7 separate regions of the Homo sapiens genome follow, and all the other regions are reported to be linked to region 1. The links are microRNA targets in miRTarBase. Many come from high-throughput screens and were not tested one by one. Region 1 holds a microRNA gene; each other region holds the end of a gene's coding sequence. Distances are between the middles of the regions.
The links. The annotated mature microRNA hsa-let-7g-5p reads UGAGGUAGUAGUUUGUACAGUU and lies in region 1 at 1,488-1,509, opposite strand. An mRNA with a match to its seed (bases 2 to 7 or 8) in the 3' UTR can be bound and repressed. Matches are read on the target gene's strand: a 7mer-m8 pairs with bases 2 to 8, a 7mer-A1 pairs with bases 2 to 7 and ends in A, and an 8mer does both.

Region 2: miRTarBase lists DVL3 as a target of hsa-let-7g-5p. Seed matches in the 3' UTR shown: 8mer at 3,607-3,614.
Region 3: the mRNA of RANBP2 is a reported target of hsa-let-7g-5p. Seed matches in the 3' UTR shown: 8mer at 1,476-1,483 and 7mer-A1 at 1,980-1,986.
Region 4: the mRNA of PARP16 is a reported target of hsa-let-7g-5p. Seed matches in the 3' UTR shown: 8mer at 783-790.
Region 5: miRTarBase lists TRMO as a target of hsa-let-7g-5p. The part of its 3' UTR that is shown has no 7-base or 8-base seed match.
Region 6: miRTarBase lists ARID3B as a target of hsa-let-7g-5p. Seed matches in the 3' UTR shown: 7mer-A1 at 281-287, 7mer-A1 at 1,146-1,152, 7mer-A1 at 1,867-1,873, 7mer-A1 at 2,465-2,471 and 7mer-m8 at 2,555-2,561.
Region 7: the mRNA of FNDC9 is a reported target of hsa-let-7g-5p. Seed matches in the 3' UTR shown: 8mer at 1,602-1,609.

Annotation. Positions count from the first base shown.
Region 1 is chr3:52,266,849-52,270,914 of GRCh38, forward strand. MIRLET7G (microRNA let-7g) reads right to left here and starts at 1,513; the gene lies at 1,430-1,513. It overlaps WDR82 (WD repeat domain 82), which reads right to left. Exons shown (of 9, transcript NM_025222.4): 2 at 3,864-3,961; 3 at 104-170.
Region 2 is chr3:184,169,892-184,173,957 of GRCh38, forward strand. DVL3 (dishevelled segment polarity protein 3) reads left to right here. Exons shown (of 15, transcript NM_004423.4): 14 at 115-330; 15 at 428-3,723. The coding sequence ends at 864. Among named protein-coding and RNA genes, the nearest start is that of AP2M1, 2.9 kb to the right of the region's middle. RefSeq lists an enhancer at 1,650-1,944.
Region 3 is chr2:108,783,126-108,787,191 of GRCh38, forward strand. It overlaps RANBP2 (RAN binding protein 2), which reads left to right. Exons shown (of 29, transcript NM_006267.5): 29 at 471-2,684. The coding sequence ends at 776. It overlaps CCDC138 (coiled-coil domain containing 138), which reads left to right and starts at 3,646. Exons shown (of 15, transcript NM_144978.3): 1 at 3,646-3,790. The coding sequence starts at 3,698. RefSeq lists a silencer at 3,455-4,044.
Region 4 is chr15:65,256,100-65,260,165 of GRCh38, reverse strand. PARP16 (poly(ADP-ribose) polymerase family member 16) reads left to right here. Exons shown (of 6, transcript NM_001316943.2): 6 at 624-2,067. The coding sequence ends at 759. Among named protein-coding and RNA genes, the nearest start is that of SNORA24B, 27 kb to the left of the region's middle.
Region 5 is chr9:97,900,981-97,905,046 of GRCh38, reverse strand. It overlaps TRMO (tRNA methyltransferase O), which reads left to right. Exons shown (of 5, transcript NM_016481.5): 5 at 55-558. The coding sequence ends at 314. Among named protein-coding and RNA genes, the nearest start is that of TRMO, 19 kb to the left of the region's middle.
Region 6 is chr15:74,595,562-74,599,627 of GRCh38, forward strand. It overlaps ARID3B (AT-rich interaction domain 3B), which reads left to right. Exons shown (of 9, transcript NM_006465.4): 9 at 50-2,570. The coding sequence ends at 213. CLK3-AS1 (CLK3 antisense RNA 1) reads right to left here. Exons shown (of 9, transcript XR_007064715.1): 9 at 3,358-4,066. Among named protein-coding and RNA genes, the nearest start is that of CLK3-AS1, 18 kb to the right of the region's middle. RefSeq lists enhancers at 1,448-1,948, 2,564-3,452, 2,727-3,021.
Region 7 is chr5:157,339,218-157,343,283 of GRCh38, reverse strand. FNDC9 (fibronectin type III domain containing 9) reads left to right here. Exons shown (of 2, transcript NM_001001343.4): 2 at 1-1,686. The coding sequence ends at 422. It overlaps CYFIP2 (cytoplasmic FMR1 interacting protein 2), which reads right to left. Exons shown (of 31, transcript NM_001037333.3): 22 at 4,028-4,066; 23 at 2,127-2,214. Among named protein-coding and RNA genes, the nearest start is that of FNDC9, 4.4 kb to the left of the region's middle.

The sequences.
Region 1 (4,066 bases):
AGGAAGTAGCTTCAGTTCACTAATAAGCTCTCTCTAGCCTTCTATTCTCTGGGTAACCTCAGGGATAAAAGAACTATCTGCTTCTATAATACGTGGGTCTTACCTTTTGCTATGTCCAGGAAAGTATCTGATGTATTTGTTGTCATGCAAGGACAAGTAACGAATAGTATCTGTAAAAAGACAAACAAGGTATGATGATATCATACTATTTAAAAGAAATTTACTTTACATTTTCATCTTAAAAAGACAAGGTCAAATAATCCATTGTATTCTATATCCCAAGCAAGGCATGAATAAATAATGGTGAATAATTCTACTCTGCAGCTGAAGAGTGGGTATGTAGATTTCACCTAACTCAAAAGCAGAGTTCTTAAGTTGACAGCATAGAAAGCAATGTTTGAAATGACCTTTTATTACCAATTTGGTTTCTTCATAATTACAATGCAACTCCCACCCTGCAAATATACCCTGGTCAAAAAACAAAAACAAGTAAAGCACACATAATAATTTTAGATACTGGTCTAGTGTCCACAGAATGGCAAACCTTAAAGAAAAATATGTGGCTGTTGAGCTAACAGACTTAAAGAGGTGAGCAGCCATGGCAGTTAAACTGAAGATCAGGTTGAACCCTGGCAGCAATTTTTGTCTAGAGTTCTCCATCAGTATGTTGACCCACCCTCAACTCATTTGAACATTCTTCAATTGGACACACAAATTACAATGAAAATAAACAAAACGTCAGAGAAGTGATGTCAAGATCTGGGTTAAAAAGATCTTAAGACATTAAAAAAATCAAATTCTTATACCAATGAGTAATAGCAGTGAGATTTTGACAATATTAAAGAAAGGAACAATCAGAGATTTGTGCTTGTGGAAAAATAAGACACTCTTAACCAAATGATTCTATCTGAAAGAGTAAACAAACAAAAAACATGGTGGCGGTAGAGAAATGAAGTGCCATAAAGAATAAAACTGCAAAATAGAAAAGTATTATCCCCTTAAAAAGACTAGGAATAAGGAAAAATTGTTGAGAAACAGCTAAGGGAAAATGGTACCAAAATGCAGAAAGAAAACCATAGAAAGAACATTCTGAAGGCAAACAGAACATAGGAATAAAGGGGTTGAAAGCATCGAGTCATCCCAGGGGTTCACAGGGGTGCTTTCTAATAAGAGGGCATTTAACTTGGGAGGGGGAATAGGGGAATAGGGATATTTGTATATTCCATAACTTGAACACTACACAATTTTCCTTGAAAACATCTTCAAACTTCTTGAATGACAACTACGAAGTATTTCTAGTTATTCTACTGCTAACAATGACTCACCTGCCCTAAGAAGAAAAAGACTTCCTCCCCATTACCTGGTTTCCCAGAGATGAGCAGGGTGACGCCATCCTCTCAGCCCCACTTGGCAGCTGGCGCGCTGTTCCTGGCAAGGCAGTGGCCTGTACAGTTATCTCCTGTACCGGGTGGTATCATAGACCCTCAAACTGTACAAACTACTACCTCAGCCTGGAATCAGGCAAAAGGAAACGGAGCGCTGGAGGAACTCTTCAGGATGCACTTGAGACAGGAAAGGGAACATCCTCACAGCAGAGGCTTGGCAGCAAAGCTACAAGTGCCACACATTTGCCTCATCTTGCACCACATTTGGAGAATCCTCATTTAATCACTCAGAAAAACATCCCAACAGAAGAAATAAACCAGTCATTCGGATGATCACATAGACATGTTTCCTCAGGATCCTAAGGTTTTACATTCTTTTCCAAAATCATTAACTACACTGCTTCCTTAGAAAACCACTTCTGAAATACAGGCATGAAAAGTAGAAATGACATACTTAACTAAAAATCAATACAGGCAGAAGAGTCTCATTAAAAAAAAAAAAAAATGGAAAAAAGGACTTCCGCCCATTCTGCTCTGAGATAGGCACAGCCAAAATAGCAGTATAAGCTATCCTTGTGGAATGACATTAGAAAAATCTTTTTTGTTTTTTTGAGATGGAGCCTCGCTCTGTCACCCAGGTTGGAGTGCAGTGGTGTGATCACCCTAGACCTCCAGGGCTCAAGCAATCCTCCCACCTCAGCCTTACAAGTGGCTGGGACTACAGGCGCGTCCCATCACACCTGGCTAATTTTTGTATTTTTTGTAGAGACGGGGTTTTCCCAAGTTGCCCAGGCTAATCTCGAACTTCTGTGCTCAAGTGATCCACTCTCCTAGGCCTCCCTAAGTGCTGGGATTACAGGCATGAGCCACTATGTAGCCACCGGCCTAAAAAAAACCTTACTGCAAAATGTGAGATGATCATCAATAATCCACTGAAATAAGTTTAAAAACAGAATCCTGGCCGGGCGTGGTGGTTCACACCTGTAATCCCAGCACTTTGGGAGGATGAGGCAGGCAGATCACTTGAGGTCAGGAGTTCGAGACCAGCCTGACTAACATGGTGAAGTCCCAACTCTACTAAAAATACAAAAATTAGCCGGGCGTGTTGGTGGGCACCTGTAATACCAGCTACTTGGGAGGCTGAGGCAAGAGCATCGCTTGAACCCAGGAGGCTGAGATTGCAGTGAGCCGAGATTGCACCATTGCACTCCAGCCTGGGCAACAAGAGCAGGACTCTGTCTCAAAAGAATAAAGAATAGGCCGGGCACGGTGGCTTACAAGGTCAGGAGATCAAGACCCATCCTGGCTAACATGGTGAAACCCTGTCTCTACTAAAAATACAAAAAATTAGCCAGGCATGGTGGCATGCACCTGTAGTCCCAGCTACCTGGGAGGCTGAGGCAGGAGAATTACTTGAACCCGGGAGGCGGAGGTTGCAGCGAGCTGAGATCGCGCCACTGCACTCCAGCCTAGGCAACAGAGTGAGACTCTGTCTCAAAAAATAAAAACAGACAAACAAAAGAAAATAAACAAAATTAAAAAATTAAAGAATTCTAACATGAAAATAAGTGTTACAGTTCAGTTACCAAGACAATCTGTTAACTTAGGATTTATCTCGAGACATGCAGGCAAAAACAGAGATTGTTTATTATAGAAAGAAACTCACAAGTTCAATTTCTAAAAGTAACTCTACTCTTTAGATCAAAAAACGTTCCTGGAATCAGAAGTGACTAAGGTTGGGAAAACACCAAAACTGTTCTAACTTCCCTTAAACTATCATAGTTCAAGCATTTGTGAAACTTTTCTCAAATCTCTATCATTTTAAAAGAAAAAGTCCTGTTGTTTATCACTTGCTGTGTATCAAGTGTTCTTTCCTTTTATTTGTTCTAAAAGTGTTCTTTTTGGAGATGGAGTCTCACTCTGTCGCCCAGGCTGGAGTGCAATGGCGTGATCTTGGCTCACCACAACCTCTGCCTCCCGGGTTCAAGAGATTCTCCTGCCTCAGCCTCCTGTGTAGCTGGGATTATAGGCGTGCACCACTGTGCCCAGCTAACTTCTGTATTTTTAGTAGAGACAAGGTTTCACCATATCGGCCAGGCTGGTCTTGAACTCCTGACCTCAGTGATCCGCCCACCTCAGCCTCCCAAAGGTTGGGATTATAGGCGCGAGCCCCTACGCCCGGCTTTAAAAGCGTTCTTTTAAGTGTCAGGAAGTACAAATCATAAACACAATTAGTTGTTTCCTTTTTCCACTCCCCACTCTGAATTGAAGACTTTTCATACTCAGTCCCAAGTCCTTCAAAAGTGCCAATGGCTTGCTTCCAGCATTCCTTCAGTCAAAACAATGCAATTAACATTACTAACATTATATGAAAATACTTAAACTAAAGTAGTCACAAAGCAGAAGTAGTCACAAAGATTCCATGAACTATTTAACAAAGGAAACCATGACCTTAACTTCCTAAAAAGGCTTGCTTACCGTCTATTTTGTTAGAGCTGTAAACAACTGTGTTTGCTGCATGAGTGTATCTGATGAGGTCCACACCATATTTCTTACTGTACAGGGTTCTCTTTGGTCTGATAAGAAAATAGAGACAGAAAATCATGAACATTCTCCATCATCAAAATCTGGGATCTCCACATAAAGAGAAGCACTTGAATGATGTGGCAAAGGTGAGGATT
Region 2 (4,066 bases), 130 Mb from region 1:
TCCTCTCATTCTAGCCAGAAACTACCACGGTCTCTCTCATCCAGAGCCCACCTGACCTAGGCTAGGGACCTCTCTCCGGAAAGACCTAGCTCCATCCGGCCCTCCCCTTCACAGACATGGCCAACCTGTCTCTCCACGATCACGATGGCTCCAGTGGCGCCTCTGACCAGGACACACTGGCCCCTTTGCCGCACCCGGGGGCCGCCCCTTGGCCCATGGCTTTCCCGTACCAGTACCCGCCACCCCCGCACCCATACAACCCGCACCCGGGCTTCCCGGAGCTGGGCTACAGCTACGGCGGGGGCAGCGCCAGCAGTCAGCACAGCGAAGGTAAGGTAGAGGGGCCGTGGAGGAAGGCTATAGGTGGGCCCCAGGCTTCCCCCGCCCGCTCAGCCTGCCCCACCCCGGCCCTGTTTGCCTCCTACAGGCAGTCGGAGCAGTGGCTCCAACCGTAGCGGCAGCGATCGGAGGAAGGAGAAGGACCCGAAGGCCGGGGACTCCAAGTCCGGGGGCAGCGGCAGCGAATCGGACCACACCACACGCAGCAGCCTGCGGGGGCCGCGGGAGCGGGCGCCCAGCGAGCGCTCAGGGCCGGCGGCCAGCGAGCACAGCCACCGCAGCCACCATTCCCTGGCCAGCAGCCTTCGCAGCCACCACACACACCCGAGCTACGGTCCTCCCGGAGTGCCCCCTCTCTACGGCCCCCCCATGCTGATGATGCCCCCGCCGCCCGCGGCCATGGGGCCCCCAGGAGCCCCTCCGGGCCGCGACCTGGCCTCAGTGCCCCCGGAACTGACCGCCAGCAGACAGTCCTTCCGCATGGCCATGGGAAACCCCAGTGAGTTCTTTGTGGATGTGATGTGAGCAGGGCCCCTCCCCCAGCTCCATTCCGCTCCCACCCCAGCCGGCTGCGTTCCTCTCTCCATCCGTCCGTCTTTTTTACTTTGTCTGGTACCTGAAAGGGAAATAAAAGGAACTAAATCCAGGTGCGCTAACTGCTCGCAGGGTGCTGCGAGGGTGGGGTGCACCTACCGATTGGCTCTGCAGCCCCCTAACCTGCCTCTGGCCCCAGTTCGTTTCCTCTGCCCACTAATCCCTGCGCAGGACTTCCCAGGACCCCTTTTGTCTCTGGGACCAGACTTGTTGGTGCTACCCCTTACTCCCCTCTGCAACCCCCATTTTGGGAGTTGACCCCAGCAATGACCTTGGTGGCACGCTCACTCCCTCATTCTCTCGTTTCCCCTTTAGCTCCCTTTCACCATTTATTCAGCTACATCATCCCTCTATTAACCCCACCCCATCAGGCACGTGTGCAAACCTCTTGACTTTACCCCACATTACTGAAACCAAAATATATTTGCTTCATCTGCCCCTACTAACCATCCCCCTGCCTGCTGCCTCAGTCCTGCAACCTAAAGCTGTAGTCGCCTCCAATAGCCATCCATGCCATCCCTGCCTGTGCCTAGATCAGAGGCCCAGAGGGCCCCCTCAGTTGCCTGAGCAGCTGGTGGCTTCCAGGGAGCATCTCTGCTCTACCCCTGCCCCATGCCTGCCCTGCGTGCTGGTTCCTTCAGACCCCTAACCCTACTAACCAGCAGGCTCATCTCACCTCCAGGCCTGAAACATTTCTTTTCTTTCTTTTTTCCTCCCCCAATTTACCCTGGGCCTGGAGCAGCCAAGAATTTCGGGCTGTTTGACTTTCTGTGAGCCCCCAGCGAGGGGAGGCCCAGCCTCCGAGGAGACCAGGAACCCTGCTTCAGCAGCCCCTCAGGGCTTCCCAAGGATGTCCAGCCCCCACACCCACACGTTAACATAATGAGTCACTAGGCTTCTGGGGAGGGCCCAACTTCACCCATGCATGAGAGACTCTCCTCCTTTCCAGAGAGAATCGGATCGCACCACGTGTGGCAGCCTGCGGCGGGGGGAGGGGGGCCTCTTTAGCTCTCTTTATCTTTCTCTCTCACTCATGTATGCATACATGCACAGAGATGCATACACAGGTGCCTATGCAAGTTCATTTAAGCCTCAGGGCTGGTCCCTGCCCAAAGGGCTGGACCCTCCTAATCCTCTCCTAGGTTGTGGGGCTGGTCCCCTGACACCCTTCTCCCCTTCCTGGTAGACCTTAAACCTCGCACACATGTCCCCAGCATTTTCTCACCTGGATAAAGCCCATAAGCTGGGTCTCAGGCTGGGCTCAGCAAAGGACTCGCCTTGCAACCGACAGGCCATTCCCACCCCCACACACAACCTCCCCTGTTTTCACATTCACCATGGCATCCCAGAGCAAGGACACAGGAGCCCACAGGCCAGTTGAGGTTGGGCAAGGAGACTTCCAGGACTTCCAGACAGAGTACCAGGTTTTATTTTTCACCTTATTCTCTACTTTAAACAAATCATAACTTTCTCTTTAAGCCTCTGCTATAAATTCTCCTGGCTCTCCTGGGCTTCCATATTTTGGGGGCTGGGGTGTCAAAAGTGAGATGAAGTTCTTAGCTCCAGGTTTTGGGGTAAACCAAGGTAGGAACATTTTGGCATTTATTTCAATTAACAATACTTCCTTGGACGGGTGCGGTGGCTCACGTCTGTAATCCCAGCACTTTGGGAGGCTGAGACAGGTGGATCACTTGAGGTCGGGAGTTCGAGACCAGCCTGGCCAACATAGCAAAACCCTGTCTCTACTAAAAATACAAAAATTAGATGGGTGTTTTGGCACCTGCCTGTAATCTCAGCTACTCAGGAGGCTGAGGCACAAGAATCGCTTGAATCCAGGAAGCAAGCGGAGGTTGCAGTGAGTTGAGATCGCACTCCAGCCTGGGTGACAGAGTGAGATTCTGTCTCAAAAGCAAACTAACAAAGAAAAACAATACTTCCTGGGGTTTTGGTGTGCAGAGGGCTTTGTTGGAAGTGTGACTCAATCTTGCCTGCCTTCTGGGAGCTCTAGAATTGTTCCCAACCCAGTCCATGGCTTCTAGCCACCACTACAGGGCTGTTTCATGTACTTCTCTCTCTGACTCTGTCTTGTCCGACTCTCTTGAGAATTTCTCAACGATTGCTCATGCCTGTCAGTATCAGTGCTTCCATCGTTCCATCTTTGATTCACTTCTCTTTCCTTTCTATTTACTCCCAAAATGGAGTCATTCATCCTGATGTCCTCAATTGCTGCTGATATGCTGGTGATTCCCAAATACATAGCTCCAACCCCCAACTTCCCCCAGACTTTAGATCTGTATTGGTATTACCTACTGGACATCTCTATGGACAGTTCCGTATAGACTCAACTCATCTGCCCAACCAAGTATGTTCCTCCTGAATTCCTCTCCTGGTTACTTCATCACAATCTACATAGGCTCACCAGCTAGAAACATTTATGAGCTTACATTCCTTCTTCCCATATCTTATCAGCATATCATATCCATTTCACTCCAACACTCTGTCTTGAATTTGGCCCTCCCTCTCCCCTCTCTACTTTAATTCATTGGAGCATGGGATTTGGAGTTAGGTGGTTTTGGGTTTGAATTCCAGCTCTACTATTTTTGGTTGTGTGATAGAGTTATTTAACCTCTCTGAGCCTCAGTTCCCTCGTATGTAAAATGATGATAATAATACCTACCTCACAGGGTTGTTGTGAGGATTTAAATTAGATATTGTACGAAAAGTGCCTAGCACAGTGCCTGGCACACAGTAGAGTAGGTGCTCAATAAATGGTAGCTATTATTATTATTATTTTATCATTATTATTATTTACTCTAAATTGGTAGCAGTTTAGGGTATTTTTGGAAGATAAAGCTTTTGCAAAGGTAGAAGTGAAGCCTTGAGTGCTGGTTCAAAAATTAGAAGTGCCTGTATTCAGTCACTTAATGACTTCAGGCCGTGACTATGATGTGAGAGAGGTCAGATCTTCATCCTGCCACATCGTGGCTTCTGGCTGGAGGCTGGGAAGGACTGTAACATTTGCAACCAGATCTGTCCTTTCTTGCCCTTCCTTCCTCCCATGACAGGCGTAGTCCTGCCCAAGGAAGGCAGCAGTTTATCTCTGCCTACAGAAAGAGAAGAGCCAACAGATTTT
Region 3 (4,066 bases), not on the chromosome of region 1:
CCCCGGAATTTGAGACCAGCCTGGGTAACATGGCAAAAATCTCGTCTGGACAAAAAAATACAAAAATTAGCCAGGTGTGGTGGTGTGCGTCTGTGATCCCAGCTACAAGGAAGCTGAGGTGGGAGCATCCAGGAGGCCAAGGCTGCAGTGAGCTAGGTTTGCACCACTGCACTCCATCCTGGGCGACAGAGTGAGACAGCCTGTCATTAAAAAAAAAAAAAAAAAAAAAAAAAAAAATCAAATTTTCAGTACTTGAGATCTAGTAGAAACTAAGGGATGGGAAAAACCTTTTCATTTTTCATCTTCTTTCCAACAATATGAATTTCTTAGTTTTCAAACTATACTCAGGAAAGCTGGGCTTTAGGATTTAACATGTAGTGATGAGTTCTGTGTGTATTTTAATATTTTACTCAGGATTCCTATTAATTGAAAAAAATTTTTAACTTTTTTATTATAAATCTTTTTTTCAGGGAGGAGATATCACCAAACATGATGGAACAGGCGGACAGTCCATTTATGGAGACAAATTTGAAGATGAAAATTTTGATGTGAAACATACTGGTCCTGGTTTACTATCCATGGCCAATCAAGGCCAGAATACCAATAATTCTCAATTTGTTATAACACTGAAGAAAGCAGAACATTTGGACTTTAAGCATGTAGTATTTGGGTTTGTTAAGGATGGCATGGATACTGTGAAAAAGATTGAATCATTTGGTTCTCCCAAAGGGTCTGTTTGTCGAAGAATAACTATCACAGAATGTGGACAGATATAAAATCATTGTTGTTCATAGAAAATTTCATCTGTATAAGCAGTTGGATTGAAGCTTAGCTATTACAATTTGATAGTTATGTTCAGCTTTTGAAAATGGACGTTTCCGATTTACAAATGTAAAATTGCAGCTTATAGCTGTTGTCACTTTTTAATGTGTTATAATTGACCTTGCATGGTGTGAAATAAAAGTTTAAACACTGGTGTATTTCAGGTGTACTTGTGTTTATGTACTCCTGACGTATTAAAATGGAATAATACTAATCTTGTTAAAAGCAATAGACCTCAAACTATTGAAGGAATATGATATATGCAATTTAATTTTAATTCCTTTTAAGATATTTGGACTTCCTGCATGGATATACTTACCATTTGAATAAAGGGACCACAACTTGGATAATTTAATTTTAGGTTTGAAATATATTTGGTAATCTTAACTATTGGTGTACTCATTTATGCATAGAGACTCGTTTATGAATGGGTAGAGCCACAGAACGTATAGAGTTAACCAAAGTGCTCTTCTCTAGAATCTTTACACCTCCTGTGTGGTTACAAGTTAACTTTGTAAGTAGCGTACCTTCCTTCCTTAAAATATCTAGCTTCCTGTGCCCTTTCATAGATATTCGATTAATTTTTACATTTTAAACAAGTTGACTATTTCCTTTAGGGGTTTTGTTTCAAACTTTTCTGTCATCTGTCTCTACTACCTCAGAAACTGCAGCTTGGTTCTGATGATAGAAATTGAATTTTTCCTTGTAGTTATTGTGATAAAGTATGAATATTTTTAGAAAGTCTATACCATGTTCTTTCGTTAAAGATTTGCTTTATACAAGATTGTTGCAGTACCTTTTTCTGGTAAATTTTGTAGCAGAAATAAAATGACAATTCCTAAGAGCCACTGACATCCAAAAAATTCATTACTTACGCTTCGGGTTCATTCTAAAGTAAGGAAGACAATTTAAAGGCAGTAAATTCAAACTGCTGCATAATTTCCAGAGCTCCTAGTTTCTCAAGTTTGATACACACCAAAAACGTATTTGGAAATGGCTTGTATCAAATGTTAGGCAAATTGCTAAAGAAAAGAGGATGTTCTTATTGGCCTACTCAATATGGAACTACAAAGAATCCAGGTAGAACACAAAATTTTGTATATTGCAATTATGAATATTGACTGTCTTCCACCCATCTGTGTTCTTTCGGGTGAAATTACCTCATTTTATTTAGTGAGGAAAGACAGGTTTATTCCCTGTTACATGGGGATTTGGAAATTGGGTATCCTAAAGCAAGTAACTGTTCAACCACCAGTCAAAAGAGGGGAGGGATGTTGTGCGAGTAATGAGTGATGGTATACCATCACCATTCCACTCGGCCACAAAGCCAGATACTTGAAATAAACCTACTCCAAATGTATCAGTTCAGTCTTGAACCATGGATTACATATGTTTACACTAAATATTTCAAATTGGCTTATTTGGAAATCTATGTAATATAAACTGATGTAAAGTGTGTTGTAACTTTTCAGCTGAGACAGTTGATGCCTTCGTCATGATTTTAGAATAAATTCTTAAGTTAATGCAAGTGCTTTTTAAGAGACTTTTTACAGATTTGTATGCTTTCCTAAAGCACTAAAGTTACAAATTAAAAAGCTTTAAAAACTTTGACCAAAAATTTGACAAAATGACATGTAAACTGACTTTTCCCGTATTAGTATTCCAAAGATGCTTAAAAGTGGCTTGTGGCATTTATGAGAAAGTCTTTGTGTCACATTTCAGGAAAGGACTTTGATTTCTCTTTGTTATTTAATCACTGATGTGGTCTAAACCCACGATAATATGTATCTTTCCTTTTAAACTGGATTTTATGTTGTCTCATTAAAATCTGCTTAAAGATAGAATAAAATTCATTATTTGTACATCTTAAGTGGTACTTTATGGCAAAAAGTATGGCCTAAGTAATTTTCAGATAATAACTGCTGAAGTACAGATTTTATAAAACTTGGGCATTTGGGAACTTTAATCCAGAGAATTTAGGAGTTGTTAGTCCAGAGATGCAGCTGACAGTCACAATTTAGAAAGTAAAAGATTACACCACTGTAATTTTATGAATGAGAAAAATGAAGTGGTTGTACAGTTCCCCTCAGTCAGTTTTGTTTAACATAGGTTTTCAGGTTGATGTATACTATGTACTATGGTTAGCACTGTTGTAGGTATTGGCAAAAGCTTTTTTCTTTTCAAAAAAAAAAAGTTTTTTTTCCAGGGTGCTTACATTCTAACTATTCTTTTTAATACCCTGTTATACCCCATATGGAACACAGGGAAAGTGAGGTAATCTGCAATGTCTATGCTCAGCTTTCCCTTTTTTTTTTTTTTTTTAACTTTAAGAGATGGGAGTCTTGCTATGTTACCCAAGATAGATGTAACTCTCAGGCTCAAAGCAATGCTCCCGCCTCAGCCTCCTTAGCAGCCGGGACTACACGCGCGCCACCACTCCCGGCTCAGATATACTCTTGGTTTTTCTTTTATATGGCAGTTAGCAAAGGTCACTTCTGATGGAACGACCGGTCTATGTGGTGAGCGCAACGCACACCAAACTTAACAGGTTAAATGGAGCTGGAGCGGAGCGCTGCAGGCAGGTGCGGGGCCTCGGTGCCCCTCAACCCGTGGCACCCAGGCAGCCGGGGCAGGACTATCGCGGGGAGATGCAATACTACTCAGTTACGAGGTGTGTAGTGCTAGCACGAGAAACTTGGAGGACGCGCTGACAAGCCGGGCTGCAGTCTCCGGGTCGCCCCGCCCCGCCCTTTCCCTGCCGCCGTGCGTGCCTCGGGGGGGCGGGGTCTGGCACGTCGTGACGCACTGCGGCCGCGTAGCGCCGCGGGTTTGATGAACGCGGTTCCCGGGGAGACTGGTACGGTTGCTGTGTGCTATGGAGCCGAGGGTCGTCAAGCCACCGGGGCAGGATTTAGTAGTGGAGAGTCTCAAAAGCCGCTACGGACTCGGGGGCAGCTGCCCCGACGAGGTGAAGCCGCCGCCTGAGGTCCGCGGGTGGGCTCCTGCTGCTGGGGGGCGGCCCGCTCCGTGCCCCGCGCAGCCGGCCTGGGGGCGCGCAGCGGCTCTGGTCCCGGCCCCGGCACTCCCGCCGTGGCTGCGGCTTGGGCCTCGTGGAAGCAGGCGGGAGGGGCGGGCGTTGCGCTGCGGGGGTGCGGGGGTGCCGCTTCACCTATGCCTCTGTGTTCCTGGTATACTGGGCATGGTGTGGTGTTGGAGAAAGTGCTATTCAGCTTTTTTTTGCAGT
Region 4 (4,066 bases), not on the chromosome of region 1:
CTTCCAGACTTCATAAACCAGTAAAGTCTCCTCCCGACCCCTGTCCAAATTTGGGAAATGTATATAGGGTGCCTGGGTCCAGGTGACATTATGCTTTGGTTTAAAATCATCTAACTTTTTATCCTTGAAAATTCCATTCCTTTCCCACTTCTCCCTGGAGCATCTCTTTAGTGCACACTTGGGTGGTTTAGATCATCTCCTAGTGGGCCAAAGAGGATTTCCCCAGCTTGGATTTATATCTGCATGTGTCTAAAAGTGAAAAGACTTCAGCTAAATTACCTGCCACCTGCCACCATCTGGGCAGACACCCTGAGCTAGGTCATTGTTATAGATACCAAGATGGGTTGTAAATGGTAAAAGAGGAGCTACAAAAGGGAAGATCAGGATGAGCTCATTGCATAGCTGTCTTTGCGCATTTAGAAAATATCCTGTTGAAAGGCGTGTCAGTGCCTGGGCAAACAGCCCCAGGTTTCTTGAGCAAGGAAGCACGAAGCTTCATTTCATGGCTCAGGCAAAGGATGAAATTCATCATTTTGTCTTCTTAGAGCCAGACTTGTTGTACACACTTAAAAAAAATGTTTTTCTCTTTTTGCCAACACCACTCTTTTTTCCCTCTTAAGCAGGGCTTCGAGCCAGCTCTCCTGGTTTTCCAGCCATTGGTTTACCGTCATGATATCCCTGTATCTGCTGCTGCTGCTCATAGTGAGTGTCATCAACTCCTCTGCTTTCCAACACTTTTGGAATCGTGCGAAAAGATAATCTTTCTGGGCCTGGTGTGGGGGCTACCTCAACTATGTGCCTTATGGTAACTTGTTCTGTACCTCCTATGCCTCATGTCCAGCCAGGTTGAGCCTAGGGGCCAGTTGGGGGACCACAGGACAATTTTCATATGGCCTAAATGTATCCATTGCCTTTGATGATGTTCCCAGCCATACTCCAGTCAACGGGGACTACTAGTCCCTCACTCTTAGGTTTTAGGGGAGTCCTTCCATCTGCTCCTTCTTAAACTGTCCTAGGGAGTTGGCTTTTCAGCCAGGGCCAAAGGAAAAAGCCCTGCTGCATTTAAAAACAAAGTGTCCAAGCTGTCAGTGGTGTGTTTACAATCTCTCCTGGCAGAGGTTGGCCCTTTCTCTAATGCCTTCTGGAAGGCGGAAAATGTGGGAACTATAAATCACTAGGCGGTTGCCTTGTTTTGACTTGAGACACCCAAGAGGAACAGTCATGTTTCTCATAAAAATCAGTGGGATCATTTTTGAATTCCATCAGCCTTTGTATGTGAGTGCAAAACATTTTAACAGTTTTCTCAAATCAACAAACAGCCTTCTCCTATAGCTGTACTTGCCCCCCTCCCCAAAAAACCATGGATGAGAAAGAAAGGAGTCAGGGGCCTGATAAAAAATACAGACTTAATGAGCAACTCAAGATGAGAAAACTGCTCTTTTTCCAAAAATTACCAACTGCTGATTACAGCTGAAATGGAACCAAATGTTTGTTTTCTGATTTTTTTTTAATAGCTGTTTAACAAATTAGTCTTTGCTGAGTAAAAGGGGAAATTTCTAAACCTAGTGCACTGTTTGGCCAGTGTCCACAGCCTCTTTTCTGGCTGTGTTTTAGAGAAAGGGATTTGAGCTATAGGCTCGCCTCCTGTTCTCATTCTCACAAAGCTGCCTTGACTGTGGCCTGCAACCACGAGTGCCATGCTTTCAGGTCTTCTGTGGCCTACTGGCCTTCAAGACAGAGGCCTGCCCCAGTGTGCCACAGATCCATGTGGATGGAGCCTCCTTCAGAGGGGTCACAGGTCTTTGAGACTCAGCCTGGGCTTTAATGTGTAGGAAAAGCCTTCTGGCCACCCAGAGAGCCGGAGCCCTGCTTGCTGTATTCTCTGCTCCCTTCTTCCTGCTGGGTTTTAGCCATAATAGGGCCCGGTACGATTTGGGAGTGACATTTCTGTAAAGAAGAGGAAAAATCATTTTTCTATAATTTGTAAAGTTGTGAAAGAGCCACTACCACAGTTTTTACATTGATTATTGGAACATTTCAGAATAAATAAAGATATTTTCTTAATGATTTAAGTTGCCTTTGTGAGTGCTTTTAGCCTTAGTGTGAGTCTGCCCTATATGCCTTGTTGTTAAAAACTTTATCTTCCATCCTTCCTTGTTCAAACTAGCTGTTTGCTGGAGAGCATATATCACCAGGATATGATATCTAGGAGGTGTTGGATTTCTAGTTAATGACTTAACAAACGTGAGTACCTACTGTATGCCAGGCACTAGGAATACGAGCAGGATCAAAGTCAGAAAGCCCCTGCTTTCACAGAGCTGACAGCCTGCAAGGTGGGCAGATGGACAAACATTTCAAGAGTGAGGTTGGGAGTTTATGGTATTATAAAGTTTAGGGAAATACTTGGCAAGGAGTCCTAACATGGTCTAGGGTCAGAAAATACTCAGGTGACACATGTAACATTGCAAGGCACCTTACTATACTGGTTAATTTTCACAACAGGCCTTATCTACTTTTTTTTTTTTTTTTTTTTTTTGAGACAGAGTCTTGCTCTGTCACTCAGGCTGGAGTGCAGTGACGCAATCTCGGCTCACTGCAGCCTCTGCCTCCCGGGTTCAAGCAGTTTTCCTGCCTTAGCCTCCCTGTAGCTGGGATTACAGGCACACACCACCATGCCTGGCTCATTTTTGTATTTTTATTTTTATTTTATTTCTTTCTTAAATTTTTTTTTTGAGCTGGAGTCTCGCTCTGTCACCTAGGCTAGAGTGCAGTGGTGCAATCTCAGCTCATTGCAACCTCTGGCTCACTGCAACCTCTGCCTCCCGGGTACAAGCAATTCTCCTGTCTTAGCCTCCTGAGTAGCTGGGATTACAGGCGCATGCCACCACACCTGGCTAATTTTTGTGTTTTTAGTAGAGATGGGGTTTTACCATGTTGGCCAGGCTGGTCATGAACTCCTGACCTCAAGTGATCTGCCCACCTTGGCCTTCCAAAGTACTGGGATTACAGGTGTGAGCCACCATGCCCGGCCATTTTTGTATTTTTAGTAGAGACAGGGTTTTGCCATGTTGGCCAGGCTGGTCTCAAAATTCTGACCGCAAGTGATCCACCTTCCTCAGCTTCCCAATTACAGGCATGAGCCGCTATGTCCAGCCAGTGCCAGAGAGTTTAATAGCTTGCCCAAGGTTTTATTGCTAGGATGTGGCAGAGCTGGGAGTTGAACCTGGCAGACTGATTTCAGCGTCAATCACATAACCAATCTCCTTCCCCCAGAGGAATTGGTTCTAGGCTGAAAGGTGGAGGAAAAGTGTTTCAGGCAGTAGGAACAGCACATGCAAAGACCTGAAGTTCTTGGAGAAGCTAAAAGCAGGCAGGTTATAAAGGAAGAGGCAGTGATGAGAAATCAGGCTGGAGAGGTAGACAGGGACCAGATCTTGAAAGACTTTAAAAGCTGTGGGCGGCCGGGCGCGGTGGCTCACGCCTGTAATCCCAGCACTTTGGGAGGCCGAGACGGGAGGATCACGACGTCAGGAGATTGAGACCGTCCTGGCTAACACGGTGAAACCCCGTCTCTACTAAAAATACAAAAAATTAGCCGGGCGTGGTTGCGGGCGCCTGTAGTCCCAGCTACTCGGGAGGCTCAGGCAGGAGAATGGCATGAAACCAGGAGGCGGAGCTTGCAGTGAACCGAGATTGTGCGACTGCACTCCAGCCTGGGTGACAGAGCGAGACTCCATCTCAAAAAAAAAAAAAAAAAAGCCGTGGGCAGAGGAAAGCCATTAGAAGGTTCTAAGCAAGAAAATGATGAGATACGGTTTTTAGAAAAATCACTCTAGCTGGTGGTTGGAGAGCGGATCTAGGATTACTTTGAGGATTAAGAGGATTGATGCTTATGTAGTGCCCAGGGCAGAGTAAATCACTGATATGTATCAGTTGCTGCTACTATTATTACTTGTTTTTAAGGGCCCAACAGAGCAGAGAGCCTGCAAAGGAGACAGTAGTAGTGACCAGAGAAATAGGAGGCGACTGAGATAGCCAAGTGTCATGGAAGCCAAAGAGGAGGGCT
Region 5 (4,066 bases), not on the chromosome of region 1:
ATTAAATTCAACCTGCATGATAGTGCTCATTAAGTTGTGTTTTTTTCATTGCAGATGTTGGTCAGGCGTCATTTAAATATTTTCAGTCAGCAGAGGAAGCAAAGCGTGCCATTGAGGCTGTGCTGTCAGCGGATCCTCGGTCTGTGTACCGCCGGAAGCTTTGCCAGGACCGCCTTTTCTACTTTACTGTAGACATAGCGCATGTCACTTGCTGGTTTGGTGATGGCTTTGCAGAGGTGCTGAGGATCAAGCCGGCTTCTGAGCCTGTTCATATGACTGGCCCTGTGGGGTCCTTGGTGTCTCTAGGGTCTTAAGGAGCCTCCCTCATGTCTTTAAGGTAGCATCATTGATCTTTGGATGTGGCTTTTGGATTTTCTGAACAAGCTAATGTTGTGTCGAGAAGCAACACTTTGTGATCTCATGGCTTTGATTGATTTGGGCTGTTCAAAATGTTTATTTGAAAAACGTATACATTAATAAACTTAACAAAGAGATATAAAATACAGAGAAATCACCAAATGCTTTTTGATCTGTTGATATTAAAGAATCAAAAGGTGATGCTGTCTCGATAATTTCTGAAAGAAGCTGTTCTTGGTGCACTTGATAAAATTAGACAAAGTTCATTCCAGCAGAGACTTTCTAGTTGAGGGGATCTATTCAGTAATTCATATTGGTTTTCCTGTCTGTCTGGAAAAGCCTGACCTTTCTATTTGATTCCAAATCAAACCTATATCAGGAAACTAACAAATAAAAAACAAGTAGAGATAGTTTTTGAGATTAAACTTATGTGTTTCAGAGACTTTGTGACATAGTCACACACACATATATATATGTATATATATTTAATACTGATTCTAAAATAGAGACTCTCTGAGATTTCTTTGGATGTCTTTGTATCAGAAAAGGAAATCACCCTCAGAAGTTCAAGAAAATTGTTACTGTTTTTTTGTTTTTGTTTTTGTTTTGAGATGGAGTCTTGCTCTTTCGCCCAGGCTGGAGTGCAGTGGCGTGATCTCGGCTCACTGCAATCTCTGCCTCCCAGGTTCGAGCAATTCTCCTGCCTCAGCCTCCTGAGTAGCTGGGATTACAGGCGTGCGCCACCATGCCTGGCTAATTTTTGTATTTTTAGTAGAGACCATGTTGGTCAGGCTGGTCTCGAATTCCTGACCTCGTGATCCACCCACCTCAGCCTCCCAAAGTGCTGGGATTACGGGTGTGAGCCACCGTGCCTGGCCTATAATTACTGTTTTTTAATATACTCACTTTGCAACTATTTATTGAGAACCTATGGGTTAGGTTTTGGTGATAAAATAAGATGACAAGATGTAGTTCTTGTTGCAATCATGGTTAATGGAAGAAGTAAGACATAAATAAATTATTGTATTATAGTTTTAGAAATACAGTAATTATACATGGATCCTCTGTAGTACCACATAGGAAACAGTTGTAAGAATGTATTGCCTATAGGTGATTTTAATGATGTGCTCCCAGATAACTGAGGATTTATGATCAACATAACCAAATTAGACACCTGTCAACATGATACATGCTTTCCTAATCATGATTGTAAATCTTAATAGCTGATCGAAATGAGCTGATTGAAATAGTCTTGAATAGTTTTGAAATGAGTTCTGCTGCCTGTGGATACTTGTGCAGAGTCATTTGTGGCTGATGACACTGTACTCCTAAACCAAACTGATTTGTAATTGCCTTTGATGTTACTTAGAACTTCTTGGGGAGGTATCTTTAATTTGATTTTTGGTTTTTGATTTTTTTTTTAGAGATGAGTCTCATGCTTTTGCCCAGGCTGGAGTGCAGTAGCCTGATCATAGCTCACTGCAGCCTTAACCTCCCAGGCTCAAGGGATCCTCCCACCTCACCTTCCTGAGTAGCTGGGTCTACAGGCTCATGCCACCATGCCCCACTATTTTTAAATTTTTTTGTAGAGACAAGGGTCTCGCCTCATTGCCCAGGCTGGTCTTGAACTCCTGGTACCAAGCAACCCTCCCTCCTCAGCCTCCCAAAGTGCTGGGATTACAGGCATGAGCCACTGTGCCTGGGCTAATTTGATTTTTTAAAGCTTTTTATTTTGAAATAATCAGAGGTTCACAGGAAATTGCAGAAATAGTAGAGGTCCTGTGTACCCTTCACCCAGCTTTTCATTTAACTTCTTCCAGTGGTTGGTTCCATCTTACATAACTATAGTAAACGTTAAAGGTAGGAAGTTGACACTGGTAGAGCCTACACTTTAGTTTGATTTTGTTGTTTTTTCTTTTGAAAAGTTATTTTGAAGCTTCATCAGGGCTTGAAGCACAAAATGTTTTGTTTAATATGTTAACAATGACTCTGGGGGATGGTAACCAACGGCCTTATAACAAGAGGACTATTAAATTGTTTGGGGTTTTATTATACAGTCTCAGGATTTTAGAGCTAAGAAGGATTTTAGGCTGGGCGCAGTGGCTCATGCCTGTAATCCCAGCACTCTGGGAGGCGGAGGCGGGTGGATCATTTGACGTCAGGAGTTCGTGATCAGCCTGGCCAACATGGTGAAACCCTACCTCTACTTAAAATACAAAAATTAGCTGGGTGGTAATGGCGCATGCCTGTAATCCCAGCTACTCGGGAGGCTAAGGCAGGAGAATCGCTTGAACCTGGGAGGCAGAGGTTGCAGTGAGCCGAGATCGTGCCACTGCACTCCAGCCTGGGCGACAGAGTGAGACCCTGTCTCAAAAAAAACCCACAAAAATAATAAAAAGGATGTTAAATATAATCTGGCTCAGTTTTCTGCCAGTTCCTGAGTCTCTTCAATGTTCCCACTATCTGGCCTTTCCAGGCCCTGCCTAAATGAGGTATATACCCCTGACCTGTGCAGCTTATTCTTTATGGGCAGTGCTCATTATTAAAACATTCTTCCTGAACGTGAGATCCACTCTGTCCTCCGACAGCTCTGCCCACTAGAGAGGCCACACAGGCTGGTTGCCCTCCCAAGTTAGCCTGTCATACCACCCCTTGGTCTTCCCTAGGCTGAGCACCCCCGTTTTCTTCAGCTGTTTCTCATAACATGATCTCAAGCCTCTTCTGAACCCCAGGCTTTCTTGAGTCTCCATATGAGCATTTGCCTCTGTGGGCACAACTTCAAGTGTCCTTTGTGAGGAAATGTGCATCTCTGGTTGGTGAACTTCCATCCCTCAGAGAGAAATAGAAGCACAAATTTGAAACAAGCTGTCTGTCTGTCTGTTTCTTTATGTCTTGGAAACTTTATTTATCCATCCAAGCTTTTTTTTTTTTTAGCCTTTGAGAGCAGGCAACCATCCAAGCTCATTCCACGAACCCAGAGAATTAAATATACCTGATTTGTAGCACAAAATAAATAAATGATAAAAGTTCCCTCAAACCTTCCATCAAGTGGTTTTAAAACTGTCATTGATTTTATGTCCGGAATTGAAGTTGTTTTGGTGCGTGCATGTACACACACGCATGTACACACACACACAAATACACACTAATCCTAAAAATGAGATGGAAATGAGCTACAAGAAAACTCAAAAGTGCCATAATTATGACTGTCAAAAATAGTGTTACAGCTCTAGGGTCGTTTTGTGTCCTATTTGTATCAAAATCACATTTGGTCCTTTATTAAGTGGGAGGTGAGTACATCAAGAGGAAGAGGTTGCTTGATTCTTGGTCCTTTAGATTTTTAAGACTCTTTGGCCAGAGTTTTGGAAAAGGGATTGTGTCAACAAGCAAAGTTGTGGTTTCAGGACTGCCTTAGAAACTTTTTCAAGAGAAGAAACAATTCTCTACTAGGCGTAAATGGCACCCACCTTAATTTTTAGCCTTTGCTTTTTGGTGCCTGTAGGGGGAGCCCTTGATAGCAGATTTTATTCCCATTTCACTGGCTTGGAGGAAAACACCAGGAGTTCAAGCTGTTTAGGTAATTTTGGCGTTTGGCCCACCTGCCCCAGCTTTAAAGAACAGTAACTTGTACAAGCAATGCTGACTGATGATTGTCAGTCACATGTGAGAAGAGATTAGAAAGATGAGTGGCATTTATTAATTTTTTCTT
Region 6 (4,066 bases), not on the chromosome of region 1:
CCCCTTCGCTCTTCCTCTGCCCACACTTGCTTCTCTTCCACCCACCAAGGTGTGCTGTTTGCCCAGAAGCCTGTGGTCCACCTCATCACGGGGTCTGCTCCCCAGAGCCTCGGCAGCAGCGCCAGCAGCAGCAGCAGCTCTCACTGTTCACCAAGTCCTACCTCATCCCGGGGCACCCCCAGCGCAGAGCCCTCCACCAGCTGGTCCCTCTGATGGGCAGGACCCAGCTTCCCACTTGCCACTCTCCTGTCGAGAGTGAAGGAAGTTGATGCACAGAATTTACCTCATCTCACAGAGCCCACGTCGACGAGCACCATTTGGCCAGACATTGAGAGTTTGGACGTGTCCGTCTGTCCAGGCTCCATTCAGGTCCTGCTGTACTCTGGGGGCAGGGAGAGGCTAGAGGGGCAGGACAGACAGCGTTGTCCAATCAGGGATTGTCCTGGAGAACTGGGTGGGGGTCTGTGGGTGTCCAGCTTCCTCCAGGGTTCCCCAGCCACCTCCCAGCTCAGGGCACAGTGTATCGACAATCTGTCAGCCGACGCAGGGCTGGAGGCCCTCCATTTCCCTCCCCTTTTAATTTATTTCCCTGACCCTGCCTTCTGCCATGACCCCAGGGCCACTAGTCTCTTCCCCTGTTTTTAAGTCCCATGTGGGGCTGCCAGGAGCCAAGAGCATGCCTTCATGCCCTTCTCTGCAGAGCATGGGATGGGGCCCTTCCAGCCCACTTTGCCTACTGTTAGGTTCCTGGGGTACGGGTCCCTCAAACACAAGTCTTGAATCAGTCCTCAGGGCCCCAGATCCCCCTTCTAATAGTCTGAAGGAAGAGGCTGTGAGGGCAGTTCAGGGCCAGGGCCCACAGGGCATCTGCTGATGGGAAGGCAGAGCCTCGGGGCTGCCCAGCCCTGGCACCTGCTTCACACGGACCATTCTCTGACCGCCCCCGCCAAACCTCATGCTCCCCACTTGCCCTTATTGGCCTGCTTTCCCAAAAACAGCCCACTCATCCTTTCCCCAGCCCTCTTCAGCCCTCCCCAGTCCTCCCCAGCCTTCTTCAGCCTTCTTCAGCTCAGCCCTCTTCTATTTCTTATGGGGCCATCTTGGCCTCACCATCCCCACACGTGCCGATGTCAGGTTCATTGAAATACCTCAGATTTGTAATTGTTGATGTTTGAGTCTTCAGGAAGTATTTGCATCTCTGAAATCTTTTTTATATGTGTTTTGCTGACTTTTGTTTTTTTTTTATTTTAAAATTTTTATCGTAGCACCAAAGAAATGAAAACAGATCACCCCCAAAGCCAAGCAAGTGATTGGGTAACCCGGCCCCTCTGGCCCTTCCCTCAAGCCCAGTGAGGAGGTGGGTGGAGGCATGCAGGGGAGACGACTCAGGGATCGCGGGGGCGGGGAGGTGGAGTGGAGAGGCCCGCTCTCACACCGGGTCGGGCCCTGAAACTGTACCAGTTCTGAAGACCGTTTTCTGCCACACCCCCACCCCCAGCTGACCAGGGAGGCAGAGGACACCTCCCCATCACTCAGCATTCCCAGCTCAGGGCACAGGCAGGCTGGGGTCCTCGCTGGCCTTGCCAGAGGTTGAGCCGCCCCAGGGTATGAGGAGATGAATAACTCCACAGCTCCTCCTGGACCCTGCGCGGGAGCAGGCAGCTCCTGTGCTGTAAAGAAAATTGATTCGCTTGCGGCTCACCTCAGTCGAGGAAGCCCTGGAATGTTCAGCAGAACACCACCACTGTGACATGGGGCTGTGGCAGTGGGAGACACCGCGCGTGGCGTGGGTGTGTGTGGCAGCGTGGCTCGCATTCAGTCCTGTGTAGGAGAGGAAAGGGAATCAAAAGCTTGAGCACAAACAGATACCTCAGCCCGGTAAGCTGCAGCTCTGCTCAACTGCGTCTTCTCTCAGCCCTCCACACACACTCACCCCCACTCCCACACACATACACACACACACACACATACCCCATCTCCCGAGGGCTGACCTCCTCTGGCCTCAGCCTGCAGGGTGTGGGCAGAGAAGGGCATCTGGGACGTGGTGCCAGTGAGGAGCCCAGTTGGCTGGCACTGGGCCCATTTGAAGGTGTCTCAGACATTTGGCCAGTATGTCTTTCTCAGGGGTTTGGTCACAAAGGATGGACTCTTCCCACCCAGAGGATGCAGGGAAAGCACACTGTGTCTTTCCGGTCATTGGATCCTCTCCCTTTCCCCAGGCAGCTCGCCTGGCCACACCGTTGGAGTGAACCCTCACTGCCCTCAAGGACAACAGCAGGGTGTCACCCAGAGCCCGATGAGGGGTGCCAGCAGGTGCCCCCACGAGTGGGGCCTTGGCCCAAGCAGAGCTTCCCCTGAAGGTGCCATCAGCCAGGGCAGCTCTGTCCCCTCCTGCTCTCCATCTTATATGTATTCTAACCAGGAAAAATGTGATAGCACATGGGTAGCCTAGGCAGTGAGTAAATACCTCAGATGTCCTCCTGCAGCAAGTGTCTATATGTTGTGGTTATTTTCTATCTTACATGTTCTCGAATGTTTATATTTCAATAAACCTCTACCTCTTCACACAAGCAGGTCTCTCTCAGTTGCTTTGAGTGGCCTTTCCACTGGACAGTACTGGGGAGAGGTGAGCTCCTTCAGAGTGAAAGGGGACTGAGTGAACTACTCCTGACCCCTTGATTTCTCCTGAACCTTCTCCCCTTCACCCACGCCTTCTTCAAAGGGAAAGCTCACTGAGCTCACTCTCAGCTAACCTTGTGTGTTAGCAGGTTTCTCTGGCGTTACCCCAGAAGCTCCTAGAAAAGCCTGCCCGGCAGCAAGCCACAGGCCCCGCCACGCCATTGGCCAGGATTGAGTCACGTGCCCTCCCCAGAGCCAATGGGAGCGAGGGGGCAGGGTGACCGGGAATGACCTTAGACTGCCCGCCCTGCGCGGAGGGAGATCCACTACAGGCTGCGCCTCTGCCCCTGCGAGGGGCACCCCTGGGTCTCTGGGAAACGGAATGGAGGGTCTTATGGAAGAGAAGGTTTGGAACCACCGCTGGAGGGAAGGGGAGAAGAAAGCAAGCAGGAGTGGCGCGAACAGGAAGGGACTAGGGATAGAAGCCGGGCTTGGACACAGTGAGGCACGAACCCCGACAGACACAGAGACAGACAAGGGGTGCTGATCTCCTCACTGGGCGGGGTGGGCAGGAAAAGGAACAGGAGCTGGAGCTAGAGCGAGGGCTGCGAGCGGCGAGTGGATACCCGGCCTCAGGGAGGAGCTTCCAGGAGGGCAGGGGTCTCCTTTGGAGCAGCACCGGGGACGTTTGCTCGGCAAGGGCTTTTTGTGCGAAGTAACCGAAGCCAGTCAGGCTAATGGCGGCAGAGAGAAGGATTTATTCTTGCACCCAGGGTGTGCGGAGGAGCCCAAGGGCATTTGGACCTGTGTTGACGTCCGGAAGGGCCCGGAACCCAGGAAGCTCTGCCCGCAGAGGGTATTCCTCTCCCTCTGAAGACCACCTCAAAGCTCAACTTTATCACCTCCACGCATGAGACCGCCGGCGGCTGAACTAAAATCTCACCATCCCAATTCCAGTTTCTGGGAATTGTCACCTCCATTCGCTCTCATTAGAAATCCAGCTTTTTTCACGAGGTGAATAACAGGGCAGTTGACAGTTCCCAAGTTTTCTGTGTCCAATCTTCAGCCCTGGAGGGACTCTTCTGCTCCAAGTCCAGCGATCCCGGGAGGGGGCCCACTGGTCCAGTACGGCTCAGTACCCAGCCCTGGATCCACCAGCTGACGCTGGAAGGAGTGGGTCATGAAGAACTCAGCACGAACGCAGCTGGGTACGAATTCCCAGAGATGTCCTGTCCCTCCACGGTACCAAGGACCCCTCCTTTAAGAAACTGCTTCACTGAAGGCGCAGATGGAGGGAGGGATCGGCAACAGAGTTCAGAGGGGTTCCGGGGGCACATGGCTCAGCCGGAGGAAGCAGGCTGAGGAGGGGCGTTCAGAATGGCCAGATGACCTCGAGGGGAATGCCAAGCCTCAGCCCACTTTGCCTGTGGCTCCTGAGGATGTTCAT
Region 7 (4,066 bases), not on the chromosome of region 1:
ACAGGCACTACTGCACCATGTTCCACACCCTGGATAAGAGTCCGCTGGCTCCTGGAAGCTCCCTGGTAGACCCCCAGATCTCCCTTTGGGTGCTGATGGCCATTCTGCTGGCCTGCTTCACAGCCGTCTTGGCCTTCATCTGCCTCCAGTTCTGGTGTGTCCGTTGCCATGAGCCGCGATGGTCTTACAGGGCTGGCCACATGGAGGAGGCCAATGGGTTGGTGAGATGGCCAGAGGAGGCCCCGGATCTTGGTCAGAGGGAGGAAGACCTGCAGGGGCTCCCCCTGGTGGAAATGCCACGCAAGAACTCCAGAGATGGAGCTGAACTGGATCCCGAAGCCAACCAGGATGCCCCTGATGCGGGTGCCTTACAGAGGGGGGGTGGTGACCCACCCGCTATACTGCCTCATTGTGGGGAATGAGAGTGGGGAGGAGAGCGCCCGCATCATGTAGCCTAAAGCTTTCCACACAGTAGGTCGTTTGTACAAATGTGTCTATAGACTACCCATTTCTCTCCCATCAAACGTCACTGCTATTGTAGGTCACCTGGGTTGGATGAATGCCCCATGACAAAGCTTCTCAAGCTGGAAAATGTATCCCCCAGGGTATGCCAAGGCACAAACGAGGCATCTCAGCAGCAGCGTCCACTCGGAGGACACAGTTAAGAATTGAAAGCATTGTTTTAACATTAAAACAAACATGGATATGTTATAAAGTAGAAAGCAAAAATTTGCATGACAAATAAAACACAGCACTTGAAGGAAACACTTGAGTTACAAGTAGGCTCTCAGAGGTACACTTTTGGGCAAAGGTAGATGTCCAGTTTCCTCTGCCCTTGAGGGGATTATTTGGAAATAATTTGGGATTATTTGGAAATAATTTGTGAGAACCCTTGCTCTGGAGTGTTTTCCAACTTTTAGGCAATCACATACCACCGCTCTCTATTTTTTAAAACCATGGATTATCTTCACTATTATTAATAATACTTTCCTTTAAATTGACTCATTTTTTAAGCGTAAACTTATTTTCAAAGACAGCCTTATATTACTCCATAAGTGAAAAACCAGCACCCTCCTGCTGCAAACAGAAGGGAAGAGACATAAGAATAAACATCATGAAAACAAGATAATATTAAATAATCTGACTTAGCTTCTATTGCCTGCCAGTGATTCTGAGCTTAATGCCTGCTTGCTTGTCTTTGATAAAAAGGGAGATCCAGTGTTGGAGAGGTAATAAAGACATATTAGCACCAATATTTGTCTTTCTCCTTGATATAGCATAAGGTTTGAAAGAGAATCGAAAAGGGAAGTGCTGTTTTTACTTTGCGAGTCAGTGTTAGTTAAATGCCATGTCTGTGAACCACCTCAAATGCTGTCAGTCAGCTTCCCTTGATTTGAGAAAATTGTCTTGACCAGACTAGGCAGGCTGTTCTGGAGAAGACGCCTGTACTCTCCAAGCATCATCCAAGACCTTCCCAGTACCCTCTTATATCTATAGAGCACAAAATCCCAGAATCACAGGACGACACTGCAGTGAATCAACTAAGAAACAGCAGGAGCTGAGAAGCCAAGACGAGAAGCCCCACATCCCTATTCCCTTGCCTACCTCATGCATTCCCTGCTCGGCACCCAGACTTTTGCCCCCATTCCTGCTACTTGTGAACAAATAAAGATTCATATACTCACAGCTGTTTCTGCCTGGATCTTATTGCTGCCTTTTTCCTTTCTCTTTAGAGATAAGAGTCTCGCCCTGTCAGCCAGGCTGGAGCGAAGTGGTACAATCATGCTCACTGCAGCATAACACTCCTGGGCTCAAAGGATCCCCCTGCCTTAGCCTTCCAAGTAGCTACTGGTGCATGCCGCCATGTCTAGCTAATTTTTTATTTTTTATTTTTTTGGTAGAGACAGGGTCTCGCTATGTTGTCCAGGCTGTTCTCAAATTCCTGGCCTGAAGTATCCACTGGTCTCGGTCTCCTGAAGTGCTGGGATTAAAGGTATGAGCCACTGTGCCTGACCTCATTGCTGCCTTTATCTCTGCACCTTCTTACTCTTCTAATTAAGAGACACTTTTCTATTTGCTTTTTCTCACCAACCCTCTTCTAGGCAGGGTAGGGCAGGACTACTTACCTTGGATCCATAGAGGTAATAAGGCTGGACGTTGGCAGGTTTGTCTCGTTGTGGTTCTTGGGTGAAAGGAATGGCAGTCCGCACAAAACTAGTAGAAGCATAGGGATGGGAAAGAGTTAATATGGTCCTAATATTATTCTCCATGGGACACAGATAACAGGAGTGCTTCCTGGCCAGGTGAAGGTTTGCACTGGTACAAGTGCACTGTTTGTTAGGTGGTTGACTATAAAGGTACTAAACTCTTCTGACATCTTCCCATTCAACTGCCGTCTCCTTTCTATAGATGGGAAAAATTCAGTCTAGATTCCTGGGCTCAACCAGGGGCTTGTGGCTGCTCCGAATGACACTAGGCAAGAAACTAAGAGTGGACTTTCTCTAGGGCTCCACTCCTCTACCTCCAGTTTGGTTTCTCAAGAGCAGAGTTCAGCAAACTCTTTCTCAAAAGAGCCAGGCAGCAAATATTTTTAGCTTTGGAAGCCAGACGGTCTCTGTTGCAAGTACTCAACTCTGCTGTTGCAGCATGGAAGCACCCACAGACAATAATAAACAAATGAGCATGATCGAGTTCCAATAAAACTTTATCAAATACAAATCATTTTCACTTGTCACCAAATATTATTCTTCTTTGGATTTTTTCCCCTCAACCACCCAAAAGTGTGAATACTATTCTCAGCTCATGGGCTTTACAAAAACAGTCAGCAACTAGATGTGGCCTGTGAGCCACAGTTTGCTGCTCCCTGCTCAAGAGTGTTAAAGCTCCTAAATCTTTATAGAACTGGAAATCTATCTCACTTAGTGTGTGGATCCAGGTGCATTTGTGGATATCTCCCATACCCTTTCATTCATTCAACACACACTCATTCAATACTGGCCTTGAGCCAAGGCTTGGAGATACCTAGAAGATCTGCAGATGAATACATTTTTTTTGCATCCTTACATACTTATTTTGTATGTGAATATATATGCCTTACTCTTCCACTGGGTTATGAAACTTTGTGGGGATAAAGAAATTAGGTCTTGTCTCTACCTCAGTGCCTGGCCCCGGGCCGTGTGCACCTTGCAGGAGGCAAGTTCCACTTTGTCATGCGTATGTGTGCTCTGCAAATGTATGCTGTTTTGCAGGCATGCTTTCAGATACGTGGATATCCTTACAAACATACAATCTGATCATGTCATCTCCTTTCCTCAAACTCTTTCAGGGTTAATAAAAATGCACGATCCTGCCCTGGCCTGTAGAGTACTGCACAATCTGTTCCTGTGTTATCTTTCACAGCACCATTTCCCACCCGACTAGTTTTACCCTCATCAACTTCTTGGAGAAACCCTTAGAAACTTGTCTGGAATATTCTTCTCCTGCCTTTTTGCCTTATTTATTCCTAGTCATCCTTTGCATCTTAACTCCAGCATTACTTCCTCAAAGAGGAAGCCTCCGTTGAGGTTTGCATGACTTTTTGGACTGGAATAGGTGGTACTGTTACCACTGTCATGGCCCTGTGGGCTTTCCTTCATCTCCTTATTCACTGTTTGTAATGGTACATTTGTCATGTGATTGATCACCCACATCCTCCTCTAGTCTGAAGACTCAAGAGGCAGGAAGGTATCTGCTCACCATGGCATGCCCCATGTTTTACTGGAGCAGGAAAACACCCCAATGGGCAACTTCAGAGTAGCAGTAGAAAGAGCTCTTCAATGAAAGAAGACCTAATTGTTAACCACATTCAACTGTCAACCAGCTCTATGACCTTAGGCAAGTGAGACAGCACAAAGCCTGTGCCCAGGAGGGGCTCTGAGAGACACCTGTTGCAGGAACCACTCACACATGTACTGGGCCTAGTTTGGAGGAGGCAGCTGGCCACTCCCCCAACCCCCACCCGGCCCCCTCTGCACAGGGACTCCCTTACCGGTTAGTGGACCCATTGTAGCAGTAGTTGGGGAGAAAG